4 linked regions of the Homo sapiens genome follow. The protein of the gene in region 2 interacts with the protein of the main gene of each other region in a pairwise test. Each region holds a gene or a part of one and is shown on either strand. Other genes may lie near its edges.

Region 1 (7,903 bases), on a different chromosome or scaffold from region 2:
ACTGTCTGGCATCTGATTTGAACGAGGCTCGGCGCAGCCGGGCCCTTTTCGCAAAGTAGGCCCACTGCAGACCTGTGGGAACCTCCGGGATGCCTGGGGACCCGCATCTGCCGCTACCCGCAATTTCCTATCCCGACCCTCTCTGCAGTTGTCGACCCCGGCCGGCGGCTTTGAGCGTGGGGTCCCGCAGACCCTGGCACCTAGGGGGCCGAAGCCGAGGGATCTTGGGGTAGAAGAGCGGTCCTACAGAGCTGCCGCTTCGAAAGAGCCCCCAATCGACCGCTGATGGGGAATGGAGGATTTTGCTGTTTTATTGCAGCCCGCCCCCGGAGAAAGGCGGGCTCGGACGTTCTTGACTTTAGGATAGACTGGGGAGGGGTGCCGAGGAGCGTTCTTCCCTTTACGTCTCGCGGTCGCAGACTGTATTTGCTGGTGCCCTGCTCACTGTGATCTCGCAGGACCTTGCGGACTTACGGAGACGAAAAGTGGCCTACTTTGAGCTTCTCTGATCCTTAGGGGAAATGAGTGTCCAAAGAGAAATAGGTGCAGAGTGCCGGCACTAGAATTCTTTAAACCTGGATTCAAATTCTGACTCCACCACTCTCCAGTTAGGACTGAGGGCAATTTATTTTTAACTTCTCCAAGCCTCTGTTTACTCGTTTATGTAACTCAGGCTAATAACGTAGTGTCTATTTCATAGGGTGGCTTTGACTATTAAGTGTGAGAGTGCATGTAAGAACAGTCTAAGGGAATTTCCCTGCCTTTCCCCTTGTCTGCTGTCACTCTCATCCGTGTTAGACAAATGGAATTAATTAACCAACTTCCGCTTTTCTGAAGCACGGGTAAAGAGTGAAGTGCAGGACTTGGGTAAAGGAAAAACCAAGAAGGATGCAAAAGATGGATGGTCATTGTGAGATCCACAGAGGTGCTCATCCCAGCACTTTCACCTCACTTGGCATCTGTCACATGGTGGGTGCTTGATAAGTACATGGGTGAATGAGGACCTACCTAAGCAGAAGGAATTATTGAATAAGACTAGAATTGCAGGGAGAGGATGAATCAGATTGATTAGCTACTTGACAAAAAAAGGCAAACCACTCTTCCTGTCAGAAATGTATGGCACATCTGCATATTTCAAGGGCTGCCACTTACTGCAACTGGGAAGGAGATCTCAGAACCGACACCTCAACTATGGAAGCTTTAATCTATTGACAGCAAATGCAACATAGCAAGTAATATAAGACAGAATGTGATCAGTGCAAAATCGAATAATAAAGTCTTGAGAGGGGGTTATTAGAATAATAGACGAGTGTTTAGATTGAGTAGTGAGCAATGAGATAAGTCCTTTGACTTGGGGGTACAGGGGAATTATGACCAGGGGTATGGGATAGGGAGAAGGTCATTCTGGAAGGCAATAAAAGGCAGACAGGACGCTAGTGGTAGAAAAAAAGGAAAACACTTGTTTATCAATGTAAATCAATGGCGGAAGAATTACATATGACATATGCTATTGAGGAATACCTTTCAACCGTTCAAATGACAAAAGGAGTGTCAGAACAATATATATTCCATTTTTGTTGAAAAAATTTGTTTATATAGATATAATTTGTGGGGTATTTGTACAAGAAAAGGATGCACTCCAAACTTAACAGTGATTACCCCATATTGAAAATTGTGAAACTTTTACCCTACTTGCAAGCTAACAATTTAACTTGCCACAGTTTTATGGATACTAACAGAAGACACTGGACTCCTGCGTCAGAGACAGAAGACTTTATTACTTAATAACACAGGCATCATAAGCTTTATATTCCCTTGTTCCCAAAGCTTATGTTCCCAAAGCCCACAGAGGGGCCTAAGCTTGGCATTCCCCTGCTAGGATGGAACAGTGGGTTTGCAACCTAGCAGAGGAATGCCAAGCTTAGGAAGCCCAACCTTTGCTCAGCCTTGCCCCAGAATGAGCCATTATCTTTATTATCCTGGTCAGGAAACAACTGTGATCTAGAAGGAGATACAAACATCCTTGAAAACCTAACCTCAAAGAAAAATCTACCATAAGACTAGGAGTAATTTGAGAAGCCATTAAAGAATTATCTCCCAACATTCTAGGTAAATACTATTTGAGGGTGGAGATGTCAGCTTTTAAGAATTTTATATAATATTAATCTTTATCATGTTTCATTTATTTTTAAAAATACAAAAAATAAAAGGCAAGCATAGAAGTTTAAATTTTACTTAGAGATAAGGAACCACTCAGGGTCAGTGATTGGAAGAATGATAATGATATTTAAGGACCACGTCTTGTATAGTTAGGAAGGCTATCTCAAGGCTGTTGCAGTCACATAGGTGTGAAGTAATTAGAACTGAGGATGGTGGTTATATTAATGGAGAAAAGTAACACTTCAAAGGAGAAATCTGGCTCTGATAATTTCTCCTTTATCTCCATGTTTCATTGAGTAAACTAAGGAAGCCTCTCAAGCCTGAATAACTTAGAAATTGGCGATATTATCAACCATTCTAACGGATATGTGGTGGTAACTCATTGAGGTTTTAACTTTGCATTTCCCTGATGAATAATGGTTACTTTTTAGTGTGCATACTGGCCATTCTTTTATCTTTTGTAAAGAAAGTGTTTAAATCTTTTGCCTATTGGTGTTGAATTATCTTATTCATTAAATTGTGAGAGTTCTTTATATATTCTGGATAGTTCTTTGTCAGATAGATGTATTACAAATATTTTTCAGTGTGTAGCTTTTTCTTCACTTTCTTAATGGTGCTTTTTTTGAGAAGATTTAAATTTTGATGAGAATTTAAGTTTAAAATTTTGAAGTCAAATTTATCAGTTTTATCTATTACAATCAGTGTCTGTGTGTCCAGTTTGAGAAAACTACCTATGGCATGACGCTATTTTACTTCCTATGTGTACACAACTTTGTACATAGTATGTGCAGTCATAGTTGTGTGCACATTGAATTTGTACAACTACATATGTGCACAACTTCAGACTTAAAAAAAATTTATTTGTTTATTTATGTTGAGACAGGGTCTTGCTCTATTGCCCAGGCTGGAGTGCAATGGCAGGATCTCAGCTCACTGCAGCTTCTGCCTCCCAGGCTCATGCGATTCTCCCGCCTCAGCCTCTGGAGTAGCTGGGACTACAGGAGCCCACTACCATGCCTGGCTAATTTTTGTATTTTTTGCAGAGATGGGTTTTTGCCATGTTGGCCAGGCTGGTCTCAAACTCCTGAGCTCAGGTGATCCTCCCGCGGCTTCACAAAGTGCTGGGATTACAGGCATGAGCCACCGCGCTCAGCCAAAAAAGTTACTTTTAAAATGTGAAAAAAGAAACTGAAAGTAGAGTTCTAGTCTGTCACCAGTTACTTCCAGTTACCATCCCAGGTGGAAAGCAACAGCTGTGAAATAAAAAGCAAAAATAATTACTTTGAAGGAGTCCAGAAGCACTGTAGCTTCCCAGTGTTTACTATTATTTACTTGTTTTCATGTGATAATTAGATGACAAAACCCTTAAATCAAAACGACTTTGTCAGTACGCAAAATATTGGGGAGTTAGTAATTGGGAAGGGATAGAAATGTTGGTGGTGGCTACCAGCAGGAGCAGATAAAGAGGGAAATTAAGGTGAAAATTGGAGGAGCCCTGAGAACTCAATAATAGGTGGTTGGGAAAGGTGCTGAAGGAAATAAATACATGAGACTTAAACAACAAAAAATAACACTTGCCACAACCTCCACCCCTGAAATCCTATTAGTCTCAAAAGTTAAAAAGCTCTAATGCAACAGGTCTGTAAAGAATGAACACAGGGCCAGGGTGGTGTCTCATGCCTGTAATCCGAGGACTTTGGGAGACTGAGGCAGGAGGATCACTTGAGCCCAGGAGTTCAAGACCAGCCTGGGCAACATAGTGAGACCCCCGCCCCGCCCCGCCACCCCGTTTCTACAAATTTTCTTTTTTAAGCTGAGGGTGGTGCACACCTGTAGTCCCAGCTACTTGGGGGGCTAAGGTGGGAAGACTGCTTGAGCCCAGAAGGTTGAGTCTGCCGTGAGCTATGATCACACCACTACACTCTGCAATAGAGACCCTGTCTCAAAAAAAAAAAAAAAAGGCAAAAAAAGAAAAAAAGACTAACAAAGAAAGAATGAACATAGATTTGTTCCCCATATCTTGTGGTATTAAACCTAGGGTCTACTCTTCAAGCTTACATCATAGGTTTAGCATTAAAACAGCTAAGCAGCAAAGCAGATGCTGTAAGCGATAGAAATTCATTAAGATAGGAAAGAGTGGGAAATATGTAAAGATCCAAAAAGAATATATATTTAATTACGATTTTTTTGAATACTTAATAAAATATGCTATTCCTAAGTGCCATGCCATAGGGATTTCACAAAACTATGAACTGTGATTAGCAGGAATTCCTCATGAAGTTTGTACTCTATGTGAGAGGTCTGGATATGTTTATGAATCGAGAACAGTAAAGTACAGGGTATGTAACGGAGCCAAACGCGAATCCAGTTGGAATCCTAAGGATCCATGAAGTGCTCCCTCCTCCAACACTTTCCCAGCCTCCTATTCACAGCTCCAGCCTCCCCACGTCCGATATCTACCCCCAGGGGACCGTTACTATTGACAGCGAGCGCGCGGAGCTGCATGGGCACACAAGGCGGAGGGGACACCAAGGTCCGTTATTCCCCAGCACGTTCACTGCCCCAGCGACAGCGCAAGCCTGAGGCACGCAGACGCGGGAGGAACCCGAGGCACAGCACACAGCAGGTGAGGGGCGTGGTACTCCGGTACCCTCAGTCGGCCGACCATAGAGCTTGTAGACCTCCAGGACTCCTAGAGAGCTTCCGGAAGTGCCTTTGGGGCAAGATGCGTGCTGGCCGGTGTTGTGCCTCCGCAGATTTAGAAGTTAGTGGCCGGAGGGGCCTGGTCCGAGTACAGCTTTCATCGCCTTTACTCCCCGACCTTCCTTCGAGTCTGTTTATCCGTTGCAGCCTCCCTTCCCCACGACGGGGCGCCTCTGCAACTCACAGTGAGTACGGTCGGGCTCTGGGCCGGAGGAAAGTGGGTGCTTTGTGGCTGGTCCAGGCCGCAGCTGAGGACTGGCCTGAGGGGTCCGGAGAGGGGCCTGTGCGGTGTTCGGCGCCGCGGACCGATTCTGACGCCTTAGTTGCTGTTGCAGGCAGAGTACGTCCCCACGAATTGCCCTTGAACTTTTTGCGAGGGAACCTTTTATGAAGCTTTCTTCATAGATAATCGTGTTGTGGTATGTTTTTGTAGTCGATCTTGTTTATCTTAAAATGGGGAACGCCCCCCCCATGTTATTTTTTATCCAACTATTTCCAGAGTCTGAATTGTTTTCACTTAGCGCTCTTTTGCGTTTAGGTCACAACAAAATTCTCAGTTTTTAAAAAAGACATATTTTGCTTTTGGAAGCCCCGTTTATCCATGGAAACCAATTTTTGCTGTTACTCTTCTTTCTTTAGTGTATTCAGAAACTGGTGGTGTGTTGACTAGATAATTGTACGAAAGTTTTTTTTTTTTTTTAATTTCAGGGTAATTCAGAATTCAACATTATCAGAATGCCTATTTCATTTGTTAAAGCAAACTGAAGTTAGCCAACGAGGAACTCTGGGAGGGCCCCATTTCCAAAACTCTGGTTAGTCATGAGTAATTTTTGTCAGGCTACTTTGACTGCCACCACCACCTTTAAAAACATATTTCTGTTGTTTGTTAGTTCCGTTGAGTATATTTACGTAGCAATCATTGTTTTAGCAAATACATACATGTTTTGAATTTCTGTTGTTTAAATGTAAAATGTGATAGATGTTAATTAAAACTTTCAGCTAATGCAATTTGAGATAACAAAGCATAGTATTGGCTTCACCTACTTTTTCTTGGATTTTAAATCCTGGAAAATGTCTTTTTTGTTTTGTTTTCAGTTCCCAAACATTTCTCAAATTAGACATAGTCTGAAGGAAGAATACATTCCTTCCACAACTATTGAAAAAATAATACTGTTAAAATTGAGTTGTGCCTTCAGCATCTCACAGGATTACAGTATTTAAAATCCAGAGGAAGCTTTAAAGATTGCCTTTTAAACTCATGTAAACTTGACTAGGTGTTCTTTAAGGAGACTATGTAAAAATCAGTCTGTATCCACAAAGTGCTCACCAACTTAATACAGACATGTACGCACAAAACTGAGAGGAAGGTACATACTGGAGTAATTTTGCACTCAGTTATTTATAGGTTGTAATTCTCAAAAACCAGCTGATCAGAGAGGGAAGAGACTTAAAAAAATGGAAAATTAGCCACTAAATAGAATAATCAAGATGAGCAATGGGCAAGACCTGTTGGCTGATTTGGTATAAAAAATGAACAAACCTGATAATTAGCTGGTTTTCATCAGTGTTGTTATTGAGACTTTTTAATACCACATCAACAATATAAAGTTCTTGAATGCTGCGCACTTCACATTAAAATATTTTATAGCCTCCTGTACTGGTAAGTAGTGGGATTGCACCTGTGAATAGACTCTGCACTCAAGCCTGAGCAACATAGTGAGACCCTGTCCCTAAATAATAATAATAATATTTTATAGCCATTATGGATGAGGATTGCTCAGTAATAGATGGCCAGTTGTTCAGTAGTTAAAAATGAACCTTGGCTTTAAGGAAATTTATAAGAAAACATGGTAAGACTACCACTATATAACATCACATTCTAAACAGAATTTATGTCCCATGTATTGACCTTTAAGTTTTTAACATTAAACCATAAGTAGCTATTTTAAGAAAATTTAAGAGTTTGTTTTGATTTGAAAAATTAAATTATTTTAAAATTAGCTAAGACCATTTTAAAATAAATTATCTTAAAATTATAGATAATTTATTCAAACAAAAACAAATTGTCAAAACCAAATTGATTACCCTTTCTCAACAAAATCTCAGCATCTTCCTCAAATTCACTCTTCCCCCAAATCTCACTATTCTAGCAAATTCCTCCACTTTCCTGTAAAGTCATAATCAATGAACTATACCCCCAATGTTAATTGATATATTTAACCATATCTTTTGCTCCTTGGTTCTTCTGATCTGTAGTTTACTCTCCACCCTGTTGTTCCCGGCCTTGTCTAACTTGAAAAATAATTTTCAAATTCCCTTTCTTTTCTGTACACACTCTCTATGTAGGATTTGTTTGTATGTTTGTTTGTTTTTAACCTTCCTGGCATTCTTGGATGGCCTTTGAGTCTGTGAACTCTGCCGAAATTGAGTATACAATTTTGTATCTGTGGACATTTTGCTGGAAAGAAGTTCTGTGTTTTCTTTAGGTTGAAGAGTCTATAAACCAACCCCCCTCGCCCCGTGCCACAACTCCAAAAACTGAAAAGATAAGCACTGCCTTGATGATCCGTATGGGGAACTGTATGTACAGTAATCTGATTTTTTTCCTAAGTACCTATCTCTTCTTTGTGGACTATAGGTCTCTGGTTTTATCTTGATGTTAGCATCTCATGACAACTGGTTTAGGGTATGCTACCTTTACTTACACTCTTCTTCATTCTCTACAGTATCTTTGAAATACAAAGATAATGGTCACCTCTGTCAACAAACATTTGCAATAAGGCCATGGCCACATTCTCACAATGTGATAAGTCCTATATTTGGACCATGTTAAAAATGCTTTGGTAGGAATGACAAATGGCAGGGGGATGACAGAGAAGAACTCATGAAAAAGGTAATAGATAAATTAGAGTTAAGAGTTGAATGATTTTAGGCCGGGCACAGTGGCTTACGCCTGTAATCCCAGCACTTTGGGAGGCCGAGGCGGGCAGATCACGAGGTCAGGAGATCGAGACCATCCTGGCTAACACAGTGAAACCCC
Region 2 (7,023 bases):
GTACATAAAAATGCTTCCCAAGGTGACAGTAAACGTCAAACTATATTACAATATTTCATCTAAGTGTGTAATTTAAAAAATCTCGTCTTCCCGGCCGGGTGTGGTGGCTCATGCCTGTAATCCCAGCACTTTGGGAGGCCGAGGTAGGTGGATCACGAGGTCAGAAGATTGAGACCATCCTGGCTAACACGGTGAAACCTCATCTCTACTAAAAATACAAAAAGTTAGCCGGGCGTGGTGGTGGGCGCCTGTAGTCCCAGCTACTCGGGAGGCTGAGGCAGAATGGCGTGAATCTGGGAGGCAGAGCTTGCAGTGAGCTGAGATCGCGCCACTGCACTCCAGCCTGGGCGACAGAGCAGACTCTGTCTCAAAAAAAAAAAAAAAAATACCAAAAAGTACCGTTAAGTTTTCCATTGCGGTCCAGACGCGTTTTGGTCATCATTTATTAATACACACACACACACACACACACACAGACACACACACACACACACACACAGCCAGATGATGAAAAGAGAAAACCAAGATCAAAATGCAACAGGGTACCAAAAAATGAAAGTAACAGGTAGTTGTAATTCACTCAGCAAGTGTTTTTGAGAATCTACATGCCACAGCTCCAAATAATGTTGGTAGAAATACATTCTATGTAAGTTGTAAAAATTTAATCTGTTAATGATAGCTTTGTTTGAAGTTGTGCCATATTGTTTGCCCTTCCTCAATAAATAGATCAAGTTCCAAACATCTGAAGTCTTTTTCTACATGGCCAGCAAACGATGAAAAACAAAAACATGCCTGCAGGTGGATCACTTGAGGTCAGGAGTTCGAGATCAGCCTGGCTAACATGGTGAAACCTGGTCTCTATTAAAAATGCAAAAATTAGCCAGGCGTGGTGGTGGGCACCTGTAATCCCAGCTACTGGGGAGGCTGAGGTAGGAGAATTGCTTGAATCCAGGAGGGGGAGGTTGCAGTGAGTTGAGATTGCACCACTGTACCCCAGCCTGGGCAACAGAGCAAGACTGTCTCCAAAAAGCCATCTTCCAAATTGGTAAATAATCCCCGAGGAGGCCAGAAGAGTAAGAAAATACAGATAAAAGACCGATGTGCTGAAAAATGGTGAAGCTGGGTGTACGGGGGTTACTGTACTATTTGTCTTTATTTTGTATGTTTGAAAGTTTCCATTAGTCAAAGGGAAAAAAAAGGCAATCACTCCAAAGAAGCATAAGGGAGATGGGCCCTTGCCTCAAATAAGCTGGCATCGAGCCTACCCCTGCTTCAACCTCATTTTCCTTCCTAGAGGACAAAGGGCAATGGGTGCCTTTTGAATTCTGAAACATGTATACATAATACCTATTCAAACACATCTTTCAAAACTTTCAAGGTCCTGTACTAGTGAGGACCTTAAACATTATTCTTAGCTGGTTTTCCAGCAATTCCCCTCTTGGGTCTGTCTTAACGTACGAATTGTGCCTGAAAGATACCAGATACTCCTCCATGTACAACTCATTTATGGGGACATGACCATCCTAAGTGGAGGAGCTTACTGAATGCCTACTGCTTTTGCACCATCATAAAGTTGAAAAATTGTCAGGTTAAGGTCAGGCGCAGTGGCTCATGCCTGTAACCCCAGCACTTCCAGAGGCCAAGGCGGGCACATCACCTGAGGCCAGGAGTTGGAGACCAGCCTGGCCAACATGGGGAAACCCCATTTCTACTAAAAATACAAAAATTAGCCGGGCGTGGTGGTACATGCCTGTAATCCCAGCTACTTGGGAAGCTGAGGCAGGAGAATCGCTGGAACTCAGGAGGCAGAGGTGGTAGTAAGCTGAGATCGCGCCACTGCACTCCACCCTGAGCAATAGAGCAAGACTGTCTCAAAAAAAAGAAAAGAGAAAAGAAAAATCGTTAAGTTAAACCATCTGAAATCAGGGACCATCTATACCCACACATCAATATTATTTACAATGTAAATTTGGAAACAGCCTGAATACTAAGCAAAAAAATAATTAAATTATGATATATCCACAGGATTATTCAGCTACTGAAAATAATGACAGAATATCATTGAAATGATGTCAAGTGAAAAAAGCAAGGTGCAAAAGAATATAAACTGTAGAAAAAGACACGATGGAAATATCCCTGCATGTGAATCATTATGGTGATTCTTCTTGTCATTTCCCCCCGAAATTTCTAGCATCCTGAAAGGCCACCAACATTTTTGTCTTCAGTAGTCAATCCCATTGTTCACAGCCTTCCAAAGACTACAGACTCCCTTAAATAGGCATGGCATTCCAAGATCCAAGATATTCTAGAATATTCCTTCCCTACTCCCTTGTCCCCACTAGCTTTCCTCGCCTTGGAATGCCCTTTTCTGTTGTTCGTATTCTCCTCTCCTGTTCATTCTTCTCGCCTTTCTGAGTAGGGTCTTTTCAACCTAGTAGGAAAAATAACTTCCAGTCTTAACCTCTATTACACAGATACAAGACCCAATGTGAAGGTTTGAAAATAATAACATCTATTCTCTATAGTAGGGGTCCCCAACGGGTCCATGGCCTGTCACGAACCTGGCTGCAGAGCAGGAAGTCTGTCACTCCCCACTGCTCGAATTACCACCTGAGCTCCGCCTCCTGTCAGATCAGCGGTGGCATTAGATTCTCAAAGGAGTGCCAACTCTACTGTGAACTGCACACAAAAGGGATGTAGGCTGCATGGTCCTTATGAGAATCTAATGCCTGATGATCTGTCACTGTCTCCCATCACCCCCAGACGGGACCATCTAATTGTAGAACAAGCTCAGGGCTCCCACTGATCCTACATTACGGTGAGTTGTATAATTATTACATTACATACTACAATGTAGCAATAATAAAGTGCACAATAAATGCAATGTGCTTGATTCATCCCCAAACCATCCCCTTACCCCTCACCCCACCCAGTCCATGGAAAAACTGTCTTCCATGAAACGGGTCCCTGGTGCCAAAAAGGTTGGGGACCACTGCTCTTTAGCCTACCCAGGCCAGGCGGGCCCTCACATTATAACATACTGCCAATGAGTATGGGGTTATCCGCATGGCTACTCACTATGCTGCACCTCCACTGCAAAGACATGCTCACTGCTTCATGTTAGATTGCTACAAAAGCAGTCTGTATAGAAACAGTCAAAAATTCAAGCTGATTTCTACATTCTTAAAGAACTAGCACCATAGGCATTTTGTTTCCCAGATCTGGGTTTTTTAAATATGGTAGCTTTAGAGTCATATGAGTAATTCCTTTCAGACAGCTCAAGAAATGTAAATCATCTCTACGGCTTCAAAAGAAACCTGGCTTTTTAAAGCCTTCCCCTCGCTCCCTTAGCCATTCCTCACTTCCCTGCCCACGGCAGCTGCTCTTCATACTCAGCTTGCGGCAGGTTGGGGGTGGATCAGTGACTCCTCTTCAGCTACTGTCATTACGTGTTCAGCTGGCCACTGCTGTCACTGTCATACTCCCAACTCGGACACCCCTGCTCAGAGGAAAGCTGGGTACCTGGGTCCCACTCACCAAAATGGGCTTTCTCTCTCCAAAGACAGGTACCCTTCCAAAGGTTAAGAAGCCCAAGAGTTTATTTGGAATAATTTTATTGTTTTAATGTTATGTTAAAAATCTAAATTATGTAAGAACACTCTCTTTCCTATTCACAACCAAAACTTTTTTTTTTTTTTAGAGACAGAGTCTCACACTGTCACCCAGGCTGGAGTGCAGTGGTATGACCTCAGCTCACTGCAACCTCTGCCTCTTGGGTTCAAGTGATTCTCCTACCTCAGCCTCTCTAGTAGCTGGGATTACAGGCATGCGCCACCATGCCCAGCTAATTTTTGTTATTTTTAGTACAGATGGGATTTCACCATGTTGAGCAGGCTGGTCTTGAACTCCTGACCTCAAGTGATCAACCCACCTCGACCTCCCAAAGTGCTGGGATTACAGGCGTGAGCCACTACATCCGGCCCATAACCAAAACTTAATGCCATGCAGCACATATTAGTAGTATTCAACTCAGGTAAAGAAAAGTCTATTTCTGTAGGACACACACTTAACAAGTGAAATGCTGGGAGCAATTTAACTAAGACTTCACCAGTTCTTTAAACAGAAAGAAAAGACTCATGCACATGGTCTTTTAAGATTTACAATTTTTATTTTTTCTACAAAATCATGGTAGCAAACCAATTATTTATAACTATTTACCTTAAAATTAAAGCTTTCTTTTGGGAATTTTTTTTCTTTTTTTCAAGATGGAGTCTTGCTCTGTCACCCAGGCTGGAGTGCAGTGGTGCAATCTCAACTCCCTGCAACCTCCACCTCCCAGGTTCAAGTAATTCTCCGGCCTCAGCCTCCCAAGTAGCTAGGATTACAGGTGCATGCCACCATGCCCAGCTAATTTTTTGTATTTTTAGTAGAGACAAGTTTCACCATGTTGGTCAGGCTGGTCTCCAACTCCTGACCTCATGGTCCACCTGCCTCAGCCTCCCAAAGTGCTGGGATTACAGGCGTGAGCCACCGTGCCTGACCCAGGGAATTTTTTAAATCAGTTTTCGTGTAACTAATTTTCTACCACTCAAATTCATAAATTCATTTAGCAAAATATCAAAATTTTCAAGATTTCTACAAATGACAATTTTAAGTAAAATAATATGTTTTGGTAGTTAATCAAAATGATAGCTGACACCTAAAATGGAATTTGGGGAAGATACAGAAAAATAATTCTGAGAGGAGAGGCCATAAGGCAGCTGGTATTGGTAGCCTTTGTAGAAAGGCAACATTTAGCTGCATTATAATTATAGACCGGGCTGGGTGTGGTGGCTCACACCTGTAATCCCAGTACTTTGGGAGGCCAAGATGGGCAGACTGCTTGAGTCCAGGAGCTCAAGACCAGCCTGGACAACATGGCAACACCCCGTTCCTACAAAAAACGGTACAAAAAAATAGCCAGGTGTGGTAGCATGCTCCTGTAGTCCCAACTACTTGGGTGGCTGGGGCTGGAGGGTCGCTTTAGCCTGTGAGGTGGAGGCTGCAGTGAGCCATGCTCCAGCCTGGGTGACAGAGTGAGACCTTGCCTCAAAAAAAAAAAAAACAAAAAACAAGCAATCAAACGCACACATAATTATAGACTGGAATATCTGGTAAAACACTAAGTAACTTTCAAAAGAAGGCAAAGAGAAGATAACGTTTTATATCATTTAAAAGTAGTATTTCCCTTTGACTACCGAGCATAGAAAGTGGTCCTTGAGGCTGGGCACGGTGGCTCACGCCTGTAATCCCAGCACTTTGGGAGGCTGAGGTGGGCAGATCACCTGAAGTCAGGAGTTCGAGCTCAGCCTGGCCAACATGGTGAAACCCTGTCTCTATCAAAACTACAAAAATTCACTGGGCGTGGTGGTGGGTGCCTGTAATCCCAGCTACTTGGGAGGCTGAGGCAGGAGAATCACTTGAACCTGGGAGGCAGAGGTTGCGGTGAGCCGAGATACCACACCACTGCCCACTGCACTCCAGCCTGGGTGACAGAGCAAGACTCCGTCTCAAAAAAATTAAAATAAAATACAATAAAATAAAATAAGGTTAGGACTGCTGATATTGGGAATGGGCAAAGAAGGGAAAAGTAACTACTTTTCCCATCCAGCTCCTGACAGCCACAATGTACTGAATGTCTTGTGCTGGCGTCCCATCAGTTAAGAGCCTCATGCTGCAGGAGCTCCCCAGTCTCAACCCTGCATCCTACTCATTAGGAAACCACTACCACACAGGCGGCAAATCACTGATAATAAAGCCAGCCTTAGGGCTGAAAACGAGTCACTAGAACACCAGCAAAATTTCCATAATCCCCAAAGAGTTAACGATTTGCTCAGATTTCAAGTAAATTGTTCTTATTTATTTGGGTGAACATTATACAGTGTTCAAGTTCCATAACTTTTTAAGTGGAAATACAGTACAAACGTAGCTAAAGCTAATTCCCTTTTTTCAGTTCAGACGCTTGGAAATGAAGACAAAGGGATAGACAATTATCGCTGGCTGTGAGCTGTTGTGGGCACTCCATTATCGACACATTCCTGAATAGGTGCTGAATTCCAGCCAGCTGTAGTCCAGACCGGCATCACTTTTTAAAAATAACCACTTTCTCTCTTCTTCAACATAGGTGATGGCTGCACAACACGGAATGTACCCAATGCCACTCAATTGCACTTGAAATCTGATGTGACTATGTGACAGTTATGTTACGCAACTTTTACCTCGATAAAAACACATCGTTTTCTCCACTCTTTTCAATAATTTAAAGATTGGCTTAATAAATAAGGCTTCCCTGAGTACAAGAGATGAAATCCTACTCTTAGGTTTGCAGTTAATCCAGGACTGCAATGAGGATGAACATTTAGCGCCATGTTGAATCTCAGTAGAATTCAAAAAACACATAGATTTCCAAAATAATCAGAAAAAGCACTTAATATCTGCTTCAGTTACTGGGAAGGCTAACACATGAAAGGCAAGCTGTATGATCTGTATTCTTTCCACGCCCAAGAAGAGAACAATTCAAGCCACATGACTTAGAATAATGGTTGGCAGAACTCCACCTCTGAAGAGTCTACAGAGGTACCATTACTCCATTAGTGATAATAGCTATTGATCTCCTGGAAGAGCCTGGGGGGGAGGGGGAATGGAATATTTAAGATAGAAAGAATTTGAAAGTCTATTGATCCCACTAGGAATATTTAGAAAAATTATGATAGCCTTTTGCCACCTTTGCCCTCCCACCCCTCATTGAGTTAAACTGCTTAACTCAGTAACTTCAACAAAATTAGTAACCCTGAACCTTTTCTCCCCAAGGCAAGTACCAGTAGCCTATTTAAAATATTAACTTCTCAAGAGACTAGTAAAAGTCAAAGGACAAGACAGTATTGTCTAATACGTAGGATACATCTAGGTGTTCACTCTCCTTCAATACAAGACTAAACATCTGTCTTAAAAGACCTAACATTCCTCTTTCCTTCTTTTCAAAAT
Region 3 (7,241 bases), on a different chromosome or scaffold from region 2:
ACTATTGGAACAAGTCAAACACCCGAGGTGAAATGCAGGTCACTCTGTCTAACCAATATTAAAATGCGGCCACTTTTTAAAAAGCCACTTTAAACGAGATTTGAGGAAAATTGAATTCCAAGGAAGGCAAGGCAAGGCAAGAGAAATCCATGAGAGGACCTTGCCTAAGGTCTCCAAACAAACAAGAGAAATTCATCTTTAATATTTTAAAGGGGGGCAAATTAACATTCCATGATTGCTTTTTTTTTTTGAGACTATAAGCGATTCCAGGAGAAGAAAAAAGGTTGAGTATTTTCTGGTGACACATCCAGGTTATTAAAATCATTTTAGACCAATTCATTACTTTTACTGACAAGAGATTTAAGAAAAAATCAATTAAGATTTGCATATTCTTTTGCATACATTAGCCCTGGCTGCCGGCATTAGAAAGGGACAAACACATACACACACACACACACACACACACACACACACACACACACACACACACACACGAAAAAAATGGGCTATGAGCCTTGATTTAGTTTTGGGTTTTCAAGTTGCCCAAAGGAAAAAAAAATCAAAGTGAAATGAATTGCCTGATTGCATACCATCTAAAATTCAATTTATATGAGTGAAAGGAAACAGAAATGTTGCAATTTTTAATCCCTAAAACAACAACAACAACAACATTCACACACATAAACCCTGCATTTCAAAGAGTAGGGAAAGGAATGACCCTCATTTTCCTTCCCTTTGCCCTCCAAATCCTGAATTGGTTCACCCATTTATTTTTCTCCCTTGGAAAAATCAGAGAGGGGTACGATTTTAATGCAGCAGAGAATCTATGGAGCCGCTGAGCTCTCTCAGCCGGCAGCTTGTTACTGGGGAGGGGAGGAATATGGGTTATCCAACGGTCAGTATGGTAATCCAGGCACAATAAGGCCTCACACACAATGGACACATATTTTTCTTCAGCGATGTCAGAAGGGAAGCGCTTTGTACTGAAACGTGTTTCCGAAAGAGAAACCAAATCGAGATTTAGAAAGGAGATGGGGTGGAGGGGCAATTGCAGAGAGCATTTGGATGCTGGCAAAAGGTAGTCAGAAAAAATAAAAATAAATAAAACTGGGGCAAAGTGAGGTTGAGGACAGGGCAGAGGTGCAGCCCCTGGGCCAGCAAGGCGGGAGGCAGGAGGGTGAAACACAAAAGAAGACAGGACCAGATACAAGGATTCATCACAGATGAGAGCTGCTTTAGTACCCCCACCCCCTCCCAATTAAGCCATTGCTAAGTGCAAAAGCCCTTCCAACGGATTTTATTTCTGTGCTTGTAATAATATCCAGGTGAAAATGTTTGTGTGTATGTGTGTGGTATTTTACCCATGTGACAGGCGACTTCCTTGCTATTAAGCTATAGGAGCCCAAAGAGAGTTGCTGTTGTTGTTTTGTAAATGATGTAGATGAGTGTGGGCACATTTGGGGGAATCTTGGAGATTTCACTTTCTGGATGTGCATGTTGAATTAGCTGCACGAACCTGGAATGAAAACTCTACATATTTATAGCTGCATAAAGAGGCATTTAATATATTAATAAATATTAATAGTGTGCACGCATATATGTTAACCATAATAACCAAAGACAGACTTGACATTCAGTTGGGGGCATCTGAACCCTCTGTGTCTACTACTTATACTGGCCCAAAGTCAGTCTCCTTGACCCCCCTGCAGAAGCTCAGAAACCTGGCGGGGGTGGGATGTGACAGGCAACATATTGGGGAGGACTCCTTAACAAGTACAGGAGGGTGAAGATTGAAGAAAAGAGGGTTAGCGTCAGGGCACGGATGGTAAAAGGTGAGTGTGAGGGCTGAGAGGATGAGAGTCAGGCTCACAGCTCACCTTTCCAGGTGAGGCAGCCGCATCCAGGTACAGGCCTAGAAGGGAGACTGGGAGTGGGGCCGGGAAGGTTTCCTCCCTCTTCATCAACCCTCTCCACATGGCACCAAAGTTTGCTGAGCTTTGGACTTCCCGGTGGAGCCATCTGGGACTACAGTTCAGACTTAGGTACTAGGATTCAGCACTGGTTTCCCTTTGCCCTCTTCCAGCAATTTATAATGAACCCACCCCCACCACCAATGATTAAGACAACCCCACACAACCCAAACCACTATTAACCAAGCAGTAGCCTTCCTCCGCCCCCTCACTCACAGTCTCAACTTCCTCTCCAACCAAACCAGCCTGTCCTCACATGCAGAGAGTTCCGGACAAGAGTGGGCAAGGGTTCTCAGCCAACTCTGAGAATTTGGGAATCTCCATTAGAGGTGTTCAGCCTCTGGGGAACTCCTGTTCCTTCACCTGGCCTGGTTACAGTGGGGATGGGCACTGTCCTCTTGGAGAGAGAGTATTCAGGGACCACCAAGCACCAGCTCCTTGGGAGCTAAGCCCTGGCCCTGCTGAGCCTGGGGTGGGGCTGGGGGCCTAAGCATTGGAGGAGGGAAGGCAACGAGGGCCCAGGCGGGAATCCGCACCCTTTGGGCACGGCTGTGGGTCCAGCTTCCCTCTCATTCCAGCCCTTTGGGGAAGCCCTAATTTGGAAGTGGGGACCCTCTCCAACATCCCAAAGGTGATGAGAAAAGGATTGGAATCTCTTGCCTTCAGTCTCCCTCTCACAAGGGCTTTATTTTTTTTTTCCCTTTCCCCTCCTCATTCCCTTAATTGCAGATGTTCTAATTAAACCCTCAAATAGTTGTTATGCCGTTTTAAAAGGTACTTATTCAAGTGTCAACCAGGCTGGGCTGGGAGGAGGTAGCGTAGGGCGGCGAATTAAAGGTAGATTGACTAATCACGGCGGCGATCATAATAATAAAATCAGAGGGAAAAAAAATCACATTACGACTTTTCGTGGAAAGGAGGGAGCAGGCAGCCAGCGGCCGCCAGCCCTGCGCCGCCGCCGACACAAAGAGTGCGGGCGATTCCGCGAGACTGATTTATGACGTTTTACAGCCCTATAAAAGCTGTAGCGACGAGGCAAGCGCTCCTACCACCGCTGGCAGATTTAGTCTAATAAATAAAACATAAACAGTTAACTTTATGTGTCACTTTTATTGTTATCAAGTAAAATATAGCTGAGCCCTGGCAAGCTATGATTTTAAACTATAATTGTTATCAAGTACAACAAGGGGACCCGGCTCCCTCCCTGGGCTCTCCCCTCCGCTACCCCCCGCAACTCTGAGTTATGGGCGATCAGTTAATTGGAATCGGTGGCATGACAGGACCACCCCTAGCTGGGGGGGGGGGGTGGTGGTTAGGAAAGCAGCTTTTCCTGGCCCCCTCCCTCCTCTACGGCCCTGTCACCCCCCTCCATCAGAGTATTACTGTGAGTGGGTGGCAGAGAGAGAGCAGGGGGTGTGAATGGGCTGGAGACCCCAAAGGCTGGCCGTGCCTCCCCAACTTGGTGAGCTTAGCCTTCCGTTTTTGGAAAGCAGCCTGGAGCTGGCCTTTAGGAATTCGTGTTTACATGTAAACACACGTGTTACATGGATACAGCTCCTAGCCAGAAGCAAGCAGGCTCTACCCACACAGGCCTCCCTCTTAGCTAGGTCTGCCCTCTGTGGGGACAGAGAAAGAACTCTCAGGATCTTGGCTGGGCACCATCACAGGGCACTGACTCCTGGCAGAAAGCTCTCCTCCTTGCCCCAGCTCCTTGGAGATAATTGTCAGAAAATAGCAGGCCGGGCTGAATGGGGAGTGGAAACAGAAGCCAGCAGTAGAAGAGATCCTCTGCTCTGGGGCTGGGGCAGGGAGGGTCAGTGGGTAGCAGGGGAAGGCGAGACTTCTGAACTCTGCTTTTGCCAACCACTTCCTGTCTCTCTTCAGCGGGGGCTCAACCCCCAGACCTCCAGAAATGACGTCAGAATCATTTGCATCCCGCTGCCTCTACCTGCCTGGTCCAGCTGGGACCCTGCCTCGCCGGCCGCATGGCCAGAGGGTTGGGTGAGTGTGTATGGGGAAGAGGGGCTGGACTCTGGTATCCTTGGATGGGGGGCACTCCAGGCTCTCCAGCCTCCTCGGCTCAGCCTGGGCCCCTCCCCATCCAACATCCACTCCAGTCCTCATTCAACTTCCTCTTCCTGCGAAAGAGGGGCGCTGCCCCGTGACCTACACAGACTGAGACACGATCGCCATGAATGGAGACCTCTGGAAAAGCTCAGGAGCCGAGGCCCACGGGGCCCAGCAGAGGCCTGAGGGGAGACCCTGGGCGGGGGCTGAATCACTGCCTCCCGACAGTCCCCCAATGCCCGGGCTTTGGAGGGGAGCCGGGAGCTTCCCATCTCCTTTTGCAGGGGAGGGTTGTCAGTCTGGCGGGATGTGCACTGGGGGCACTCCAACCTCTGCTAGCTAACCCCACATCACCACCCACCCCCGCCTCCCAGCACCACCACCACCACACACACAAAAAAATTGGATACATTTTGAATAAAGCGATTCGGTTCCTTATCCGGGGACTGGGTTGCTCCGTGTGATTGGCCGGAGGAGTCACATGGTGAAAGTAACTTTACAGGGTCGCTAGCTAGTAGGAGGGCTTTATGGAGCAGAAAAACGACAAAGCGAGAAAAATTATTTTCCACTCCAGAAATTAATGATCATGAGCTCGTATTTGATGGACTCTAACTACATCGATCCGAAATTTCCTCCATGCGAAGAATATTCGCAAAATAGCTACATCCCTGAACACAGTCCGGAATATTACGGCCGGACCAGGGAATCGGGATTCCAGCATCACCACCAGGAGCTGTACCCACCACCGCCTCCGCGCCCTAGCTACCCTGAGCGCCAGTATAGCTGCACCAGTCTCCAGGGGCCCGGCAATTCGCGAGGCCACGGGCCGGCCCAGGCGGGCCACCACCACCCCGAGAAATCACAGTCGCTCTGCGAGCCGGCGCCTCTCTCAGGCGCCTCCGCCTCCCCGTCCCCAGCCCCGCCAGCCTGCAGCCAGCCAGCCCCCGACCATCCCTCCAGCGCCGCCAGCAAGCAACCCATAGTCTACCCATGGATGAAAAAAATTCACGTTAGCACGGGTAGGCAACTTTGCTTTTTGCTCCCCCCCTCCCTCCCTTCTTCCCTAGCGCTCCCCACCCTCCTCGGCCCCCTCTGGCCCCCGTCCTCCTTTCTCTCCTTCCCCCTCTCTCTCCAGGAGCGACTCTGGGTTAGCACAATTGAACTGGATTTACGAGCGAGAATGGGTAATTACATCCCCCATAAATTTTATGGCTTAGCTACTCTGGGCAGTCCGAGCCATGTGCTACGATCTGTTATGTATGTGTGAAAACTATGCTCGCTTTCTAAGGGCGCATAAATAATTCAGTGTCGTTACAATGAGGATTCCCCTCTTATTACACTACAAAGTCTTCAGCTTCCTTCAACTTCTTTATAACCCATTTAAGCTTGATGACTTTATTTCCACCACTCCCTCCTCCTGTTTCTCAGAGCTGAGGATGGGGTGAGGGTGGGGGGCGGGGAGCCTGCTGCCTCTGAACCCCACTATTTGCTTTTCCCCTCCCCCCAGTGAACCCCAATTATAACGGAGGGGAACCCAAGCGCTCGAGGACAGCCTATACCCGGCAGCAAGTCCTGGAATTAGAGAAAGAGTTTCATTACAACCGCTACCTGACCCGAAGGAGAAGGATCGAGATCGCCCACTCGCTGTGCCTCTCTGAGAGGCAGATCAAAATCTGGTTCCAAAACCGTCGCATGAAATGGAAGAAGGACCACCGACTCCCCAACACCAAAGTCAGGTCAGCACCCCCGGCCGGCGCTGCGCCCAGCACCCTTTCGGCAGCTACCCCGGGTACTTCTGAAGACCACTCCCAGAGCGCCACGCCGCCGGAGCAGCAACGGGCAGAGGACATTACCAGGTTATAAAACATAACTCACACCCCTGCCCCCACCCCATGCCCCCACCCTCCCCTCACACACAAATTGACTCTTATTTATAGAATTTAATATATATATATATATATATATATATAGGTTCTTTTCTCTCTTCCTCTCACCTTGTCCCTTGTCAGTTCCAAACAGACAAAACAGATAAACAAACAAGCCCCCTGCCCTCCTCTCCCTCCCACTGTTAAGGACCCTTTTAAGCATGTGATGTTGTCTTAGCATGGTACCTGCTGGGTGTTTTTTTTTAAAAGGCCATTTTGGGGGGTTATTTATTTTTTAAGAAAAAAAGCTGCAAAAATTATATATTGCAAGGTGTGATGGTCTGGCTTGGGTGAATTTCAGGGGAAATGAGGAAAAGAAAAAAGGAAAGAAATTTTAAAGCCAATTCTCATCCTTCTCCTCCTCCTCCTTCCCCCCCTCTTTCCTTAGGCCTTTTGCATTGAAAATGCACCAGGGGAGGTTAGTGAGGGGGAAGTCATTTTAAGGAGAACAAAGCTATGAAGTTCTTTTGTATTATTGTTGGGGGGGGGTGTGGGAGGAGAGGGGGCGAAGACAGCAGACAAAGCTAAATGCATCTGGAGAGCCTCTCAGAGCTGTTCAGTTTGAGGAGCCAAAAGAAAATCAAAATGAACTTTCAGTTCAGAGAGGCAGTCTATAGGTAGAATCTCTCCCCACCCCTATCGTGGTTATTGTGTTTTTGGACTGAATTTACTTGATTATTGTAAAACTTGCAATAAAGAATTTTAGTGTCGATGTGAAATGCCCCGTGATCAATAATAAACCAGTGGATGTGAATTAGTTTTACGTCAATGTCTGATGGTTTCTTTTTATTCCCCTCCCTCTCTGGCCTGGTAACATCCCATCTTCTCTATAGTTGCCTAAGTTTACTTTAAACAAACACACAAATCTTAGCTCTCCATTAGTCTTCCAATGTCCTTAGAAGAACAAGCAAGGGGGTTGGGGTATGGGATCTTCAGAAGAGGGGATGTGGAAGATTAAGGCTGATTTCTCCAGTCCCCTTCCTTCCCCCTGAGTCTGCAGAGAGACCAGACTCCTCTGGGGGCACTTCAGTGGAGCTGAGGGTGGGGAGTGTCTCACTTTTCTATAGTTAGGTACAGTTTCTTCTTTTTGTCTTTTCTCTCTCTTCCCTTCTCCCTCCTCTGTGCTGAGTAGGCCTGCCTACTTTGTAGACAAGGGGGCAAGTTTAGGGAGTGGGAAGGAGAATAGTTTTCTTTCATCTTTTAGGGCTCTTTTGGGATGAGGGATTAAGGAAGACATCCCCTCAACATTTGAGTTCTTAAAAGAAGGAAGGTTTTGAGC
Region 4 (7,343 bases), on a different chromosome or scaffold from region 2:
TGGTGGTTCACGCCTGCAATCCTAGCACGTTGGGAGGCTGAAATAGGAGAACTGCTTAAGTCCAGGGAGTTCAGACCAGCCAAGGTAACATAGTGAGACTTCATCTCTACAAAAAATTTAAAAATTAGCTGGACATGGTGGTGCACACCTGTGGTCCCAGCTACTCGGCAGGCTTGAGCCTAGAAGTATGAGGCTACAGTGAGCTGTGATTGCACCACTGCACTCCAGCCTGGACAACAGAATGAGACTCTGTCTCAAAAAAAGATAATTTTTCAATTTTATGAGAGAAAATATTATATTTTAATCTGCATTTTGCTAGTTACTGAGTTTCAGCATCTTTTTCATGTCTATTTTTGTTATTTGCATTTACTGCTTTATTTTATTTTATTTTTTTTTCTGAGACACAGTCTCGCTTTGTTGCCCAGGCTGCAGTGCAATGGTTCAATCTCGGCTCACTGCAACTTCCACCTCCTGAGTTGAAGCGATTCTCGTGCCTCAGCCTCCCGGGTAGCTGGGACTATAGGCGCGCACCACCATGCCCGGCTAATTTTTGTATTTTTAGTAAAGACGGGGTTTCACCATGTTGGCCAGGCTGGTCTCGAGCTCCTGACCTCAAGTGATCCTCCCACTTAGGCTCCCAAAGTGCTGGGATTACAGGTGTAAGCCACCATGGCATTTACTGCTTTGTAAATTATCTTTTCATATCCTCCTTTTCTATACAGTGGTTTGCCTTTTTCTCAGTGATTTAAGAGGGTTTTTTTCCCCCCATATCTTTTGGATATTAATCTTTTGTTATACAGTCTCCAGAGTTTTTCTGGCAGTTTGTCACTTGTGTTTTGTTGAATAGATTATCAATTTTGATATTGTCAAATATTTTCCTTTGTGGCTCTTGGATTGCTCTTTGAAGCCCTTTAGTACCCTATGTTCTCCTACATTTAAAAAATTATTTAGAGATATTTTTTAAAAGTTTGGTTCTTCAATTTATGTGGAAATTAATTTTGTGAACAGTCTGAAGTAAACACTGACCTCATTTATTTTTCAAATGAATAACTAATTGTCCAAGCACTGTTTATTATTTTGCCCTACTGACTTCAAATGCCATTTTCTATATGAAATTCCCATACATACATGAGACTGTTTCTGTACTCTCTCTTCTGTTCCATTGCCTATGCTTATCTCAATACCATATAGATTTAATTTTATGGTTTTATAATATACTTTGATATAGGGAAAATCCCACCCCCTTTATTTCATTTATAATATAAAGTTCTTAAAAAACTATTCTTCATTGTTTATCTGCCTGATTCTCACTTCCTACTTCCAGATGACAGGGTTCCAGACGACAAAGAGGTAAAATAAAAATTACCCATAGGCAAGACAAAGGAGCATGGGAAAATGAGGGAAAGGAGACAAAAAAAAAAAAAGAGAAATGCTCTTAAGGTGGGACAATTTTTCCCCTACACTTCAAGAAGCAACTTTATGTATCAATATTTTGCCACATTCAAAGTAAGGTAGATTTTGTGTGTTTAGGATATTTCAGCCACTGTCTAAATCAAAGGTGTCTCTGACTTTCATTGCTAGCTAGTTACCAATGGCAGAAACCATGTAAACAAAAAAATGTGAATGGAAGGGAATAGAAAGAAACATGAATCAATCAATGTGAGAACATGAACAAGAACTAGAGAGAATAGAGACATGGTGAGACAGAATAACATACTTGTATTCTTCTTGTGGAACCAAATGTAAGGAAGTCAAACCTCTGAGCTTAGTGCATTCATTGTATCCTGGGTTCTTTGTTATCTCTGTTTACAGTCACTTGATGTTTTATATGGAACATAGAGAGGTTGATTCTTTACTGGATAATTGAAGTGACAGAGAAAGGAAAAGTACTATTAGGAATTATAGTAATGAGTAACAGAAAATACCATTTACTTGGAGGTAGGTTGGTAAGCATTAAAAAGAACTGAGTGAGCTGGGATCAAGCCACTGTACTGCAGCCTGGGCGACAGAGTGAGCCTCTCTCAAAACAAAACAAAACAAAACAAAAACTGAGCAAAAAAGTGTTTGTTAGTAAAATACGCACACTAAATAATATAACCTTTAAATCTAATCATTGTACATAATAAGATTATATTCAACTTAAAATTGTATCTGTTTTCATTGTAAAGCTAATATTACACAAGTGGGAAAAGCTGTCTCCTAGGCAAGTGTGGTTTTAAGTCAACAGTTAATTAAATTACTTACAATGAATTTAGTTGTTCCTGGTTGAAAAGACATGTTGATAGGGCATGGTGATTATCAAGGGACTTGTGTCCAATGCAGTGTGGCCAAAGTTTCAGGGCTCAGTAAACAGGAACAGGCAATAATAAAATCCTTTAACAACCACTCACACAAAAATATCCTAATTTTTTCATGGTGCCAAAAGGGAACATTGTGATTTACTGATCTTCTTTTAACTTGCCAATTTGTAATTAGCTGCCTTATGTTTAAAATCAGACTATTTTTCCTAGTGAAGCAACAATTGGGTAAGTTTTATTTTACTCAAAAGTACAATAAAAATGTATTTTACAGCCATTTCTTCCCTTGCTTACATTAGGTTTACGGTTAGAAAAACACTCTTAATTCCATTTGCCATAATGAGATTATTTACCATTACCAATAGCAAACGAATGAAAGATACATTTTCTAAAGCAATGGAACACTAATATTTTAGTACTCTAGTTGTCCCTGCTGAATCGGCATTTTAAAATGTTCGTAACCTGTCAGCTTCATGAAACCTAACGATCATTGGTTTAAAACATTTTTGTAAACTTGAAAGTGTAGCTTGTGATAAACAACAAAAAAAGAAAGAAAAGAAAAATAGGGTTAAGTATTTTACGTATCAGATGAATTAACATGAACTGCAGGGCAAGACTTCTGTAGGTGGAGCTCATCCGATAACTGTGCTAAGGAACCTCCTGCCGAGTTCCTTGCTAGCTGCTCGCTCGCAGCGTGGTCCTCGGCCCCGACGCGCGCTTTCGAGCTTGTTCCGCAGCGGGCGCTGAAGAGAGGCGGCCGCGTCCGGACGCTCTGATGCGGTTGCGTACGTTTTCAGCGCTTCCCGCTCTCCACCGGTTGGACTGAGGCTTTTAAACTGCAGTCTGCTCCCGAGTCCGGCTTCCTACTCGGTCTGGTGCCCCCTGGTGCTCGTCCCCTCCACATCTTGAGTAGTTGCGAAGAGCACAGGGGTCCAGGCAGACAAGGATGCTTTCAAGAAAAACATTCCATGGCGGCAAGCCGCATGGATCCACATTTCCCGGGCCCAGAGCCTTTGTAGACATTGCATGTGGACATTCAGGAGCTCTAGAGAAAGAGGGGGTGTTGTTTCACGAAGCCACCAGCAGAAGAAAGGTGGAAAATAAGTTTCAACCAACTACAAAGGCAGAAGTCAGCCCAGCCCCCCAAGTGTGGTCAAAGACCCATAGATCCGTAGACCTTATCTTTTCTTGAATCCACCGCTCCCCCAACCCCCCTTTTATTATTTTTCAGACAAAGCAAAGATAGAGTTCACTAGGATCCCCGATTTCAGTAAGGCAGCCCTTTTTTGAGAGCCAGAATATCCGTCTCGGCCGGGAGCTGAGAATGTGGCCTTAATTGATGAGGGGAGGAGGATGGAAGGTAATCCTCCGTGTCTCCTCCTCCAATCCGTTTAATCAATATTAATTTCATGCACAATCTTCACAAAGTTTCTTTTCCCCTCCTCCGACTCAGAGCTCAGGCTCCGGTTATCCTGCTTTGCCCTTCCCTTCCACCCTCACAGCCCTGCAGTCACTCAACACTACTGAGGCTCTCTCCATTAAAGATGAACAACAGATCATTTTTCATTGCATGGCAACCCTAAGAGCTCTCTAGCTTAGCAGAGCATGATGGGAGTCTTTCCATCCCCCCCCCCACCCCCCGCCCGCTCGTTCCTCTTCTTTTTTTTTTTTTTTTCCTTCCTTTCCTTCTTCCACAATTAATCCCTAAATAATGATTTTCCTAAGCTCGCGCGGACTTCGGGATGGGGTTGAGCGACCCGTGATGACGCTCCCATCAGCCTTTCAGAAGGGACGGTTTCCAAAGAAAACTACAACTCCCACGAGGCATTAGGCTACAGCAACCGCAAGGCATCACGGAAGTCGTAGGCACTTTTCTTCTAGGTCCCGTTCATCCCCGCCAACCCGTAAACTATAAGTCCCAGGGTGCCTCGGGGCTAGCACGCCTGCGCAAAAGCCCCGGAGCGAGTTGGGGGGTGGGGCTGCTCCGGGCGGCGGGGGGCGGGATCCGAGCGGGCTGTGTGGAGGCTTCAGACTCCCGGCGCCATTTAGCGCGGAGAGTTTCCCGGGTGGACGCGGCTCCTCTCTCGGCCACTCCGCACCCCCATCTTCGGTGACAGAAGGCGCCTGGTGGGGGTGGCTGCTCTTTTCTCTCCCTGTTCCCCCTCACCCAGTCCTCTAGGTCTCCTCTCCTCTTGCCTCAGAGAAGCAGCGGAGCTCGGGCCCCGCGGTGAGCGGCCCTCCCCTCCCCGCCGTTCCCTCCTCCGTCAGCCCCCGGCACCGGCCCGGGAGGAGACGGGTTTGCCAGGCCTGGGGCGGGCGGGGAGGCCTCGGGGAAGGGGGGGCCCGCTCCTCAGGCGCCGAGGCTCCGAGGCTCCGGCCCTTCGCCTCTGGGCGATGGGCGACCTGTGAGGCCGGTCCCCATCGCTGGGGGCGCGTGTGGGAGGAGGCGGCCGCCCGAGTGACCGGGAGCCGGGCCGCGGCCTTCCCTCGCCCGCCTCGGCCCCTCCCACTCCTCTGCCCCGGGGCCGCCACCGCCCGGGCGTCGGACCTGGTCCCGTGCTCGCGGTGCCGCCGCCCTCTGGGCCTAGCCCGCCCAGCTCGGCGAGCGGCGGCAGTGGGAGCCGCGTCCGCCGCATCCGCCTCGACTCGGTGCCGGCCCCTGGCCCTCCCCTCATGACTGCGGCGCCTCTGCTGCCACCGCCCGCCCGGCCGCCGCTCGCCGCAGGATGGATGCGGACCGTGCGGCGCTAACCCCCGTGGCTCAGCTCCCGAATCGCCCGCCTTCGAGCCCTCCTCGTGAGCCGCAGCAGCCTCGGTGCCAGCCCCCGCCGCAGCTGGGCCCAGCGGTCCGCCTGTCCCTCGTTGCGGCTTGTCGGTGCTGAGTGAGGCGTCGTCCGGGTCGGCGCGAACCCGCCCGGCCGCGGTTCCCTGCAGACCTCTGCGCGGGCGGCTCGGCCCTTCACGCCCTTTTCGTTCACGAATCCGAGCCCGCTCGCCTCTCTCCAGCGAACCGACCATGTCTGGCGGCGCCGCAGAGAAGCAGAGCAGCACTCCCGGTTCCCTGTTCCTCTCGCCGCCGGCTCCTGCCCCCAAGAATGGCTCCAGCTCCGATTCCTCCGTGGGGGAGAAACTGGGAGCCGCGGCCGCCGACGCTGTGACCGGCAGGACCGAGGAGTACAGGCGCCGCCGCCACACTATGGACAAGGACAGCCGTGGGGCGGCCGCGACCACTACCACCACTGAGCACCGCTTCTTCCGCCGGAGCGTCATCTGTGACTCCAATGCCACTGCACTGGAGCTTCCCGGCCTTCCTCTTTCCCTGCCCCAGCCCAGCATCCCCGCGGCTGTCCCGCAGAGTGCTCCACCGGAGCCCCACCGGGAAGAGACCGTGACCGCCACCGCCACTTCCCAGGTAGCCCAGCAGCCTCCAGCCGCTGCCGCCCCTGGGGAACAGGCCGTCGCGGGCCCTGCCCCCTCGACTGTCCCCAGCAGTACCAGCAAAGACCGCCCAGTGTCCCAGCCTAGCCTTGTGGGGAGCAAAGAGGAGCCGCCGCCGGCGAGAAGTGGCAGCGGCGGCGGCAGCGCCAAGGAGCCACAGGAGGAACGGAGCCAGCAGCAGGATGATATCGAAGAGCTGGAGACCAAGGCCGTGGGAATGTCTAACGATGGCCGCTTTCTCAAGTTTGACATCGAAATCGGCAGAGGCTCCTTTAAGACGGTCTACAAAGGTCTGGACACTGAAACCACCGTGGAAGTCGCCTGGTGTGAACTGCAGGTAAAGCCCCACCTACTTTATTTGACGGTCCTTTGGATCCCAAATTTGGCTCGGCGAAGCCAGTTGATCGAGTTCACCCTTCACTTGGCATTCTCTGTTGGACTCCGAGTGGGACGGGGAGGCCAACTTTTGAAAGGGGCTGAAATTAGGAGAATGTGGAGCATGTGCCTAGGTGTTGGGATAGGATAAGAATTATTGGTAGCCAGAGGGATTTGCTACCGGGCAGCGGTGGTGAAGGTCATCTTAGTACAAACGAATTGTCTCCTGGTTTAGAGTCTGGCAGGAAACTTGGAATGAGTGGGGAAGTTGAAAGTACAGATGCTTCTTCTTCTGTGCATTTCAATCTCATCAAAGGCTCTGCAGTGATGAGCTGCGTCTGGGTGTAGAAGCGTGTTTTCATTCCTGAGATCAGGCTGTTCTTTTTAAATGAGAACAACCTTGTACCTTTGGATGTATTTTGCTTGATGGTTGCACAGGCATTTAGTATAAAATAATTATTAAAAAAAGACTCTTCTCTGCCCCTTTTGGATGTTTGATGTTGTTCTACCTAATGATGCTTAAGCCTTACAGTAGCAGCATTGCTCTGACGTTCATTAAACTAATGTCTTTCAGCCCATTCACTATACAGCGAATAGTATAGGAGCCCATGCAAAATTGTGTAAGTGCTTTGAGAGTCGTAATGTCATCATCATTGTTTTAATCTTATAAAATATCTTTAAGCTGAACTTTCCCAAGAGTCCGAAGGAGTCGCAGCACTTCCTTTTTTAACCTCTAGTGGTGTAAATAATGGTGTGTCATTCCGGTTGACTAGTACATTCTAGGTTTAAACAGCTGAGTTTGGGCTACTTGTTGCTTGACTTACTGAAGCAGCTTGCTTAAATATTGCCCTGATTGGGCATAGGTGAACATAGGTTATTAGTAGGAGCAGGTTTATGCTGAAGGAAGTCAGCCACATTATGCATGCATAAAAATTGCCATTATTGATATAGTAATCTTGCCAAGAATATAGACCAGCCTGATACAGGATATGAAAATAACTGAATGATCTTGGAACTTATTTTATCCATGAACTAATATGTTAACACGTAACCCTTTGAATGTCAGGTTCCAAATAACTAAGGCCATATCAAATGTGAAATTAACACAGCATGTGGAAGTAAACTTAAAAACTAAGAAGTTCTTTACAAACATAATCATTTCTTAACTTTTACAGTTAATGATGTAGAACTTCTAAGGTAGTGTGAAATTAAAACTACTCATTAATTTTATAG

What was found.
Region 1: the proteins of YWHAG (region 2) and ZKSCAN8 interact in binary tests that used the Homo sapiens proteins (3 or more experiments, as listed by UniProt).
Region 3: the proteins of YWHAG (region 2) and HOXC4 interact in binary tests that used the Homo sapiens proteins (3 or more experiments, as listed by UniProt).
Region 4: the proteins of YWHAG (region 2) and WNK1 interact in binary tests that used the Homo sapiens proteins (3 or more experiments, as listed by UniProt).

What each region holds. Positions count from the first base shown.
Region 1 is NC_000006.12:28,136,982-28,144,884, forward strand, and holds the start of ZKSCAN8 (zinc finger protein with KRAB and SCAN domains 8), read left to right. Parts: upstream 1-4,901; 5' UTR 4,902-5,048; intron 5,049-5,229; exon of another isoform or gene 5,230-5,282; intron 5,283-7,349; exon of another isoform or gene 7,350-7,443; intron 7,444-7,903. UniProt on the Homo sapiens protein: May be involved in transcriptional regulation.
Region 2 is NC_000007.14:76,348,969-76,355,991, forward strand, and holds part of YWHAG (14-3-3 protein gamma), read right to left. Parts: intron 1-7,023. UniProt on the Homo sapiens protein: Adapter protein implicated in the regulation of a large spectrum of both general and specialized signaling pathways. Binds to a large number of partners, usually by recognition of a phosphoserine or phosphothreonine motif.
Region 3 is NC_000012.12:54,049,306-54,056,546, forward strand, and holds HOXC4 (homeobox protein Hox-C4), read left to right. Parts: upstream 1-4,529; 5' UTR 4,530-4,617; coding exon 4,618-5,056; intron 5,057-5,544; coding exon 5,545-5,900; 3' UTR 5,901-6,725; downstream 6,726-7,241. UniProt on the Homo sapiens protein: Sequence-specific transcription factor which is part of a developmental regulatory system that provides cells with specific positional identities on the anterior-posterior axis.
Region 4 is NC_000012.12:748,253-755,595, forward strand, and holds the start of WNK1 (serine/threonine-protein kinase WNK1), read left to right. Parts: upstream 1-4,326; 5' UTR 4,327-5,313; coding exon 5,314-6,072; intron 6,073-7,343. UniProt on the Homo sapiens protein: Serine/threonine-protein kinase component of the WNK1-SPAK/OSR1 kinase cascade, which acts as a key regulator of blood pressure and regulatory volume increase by promoting ion influx.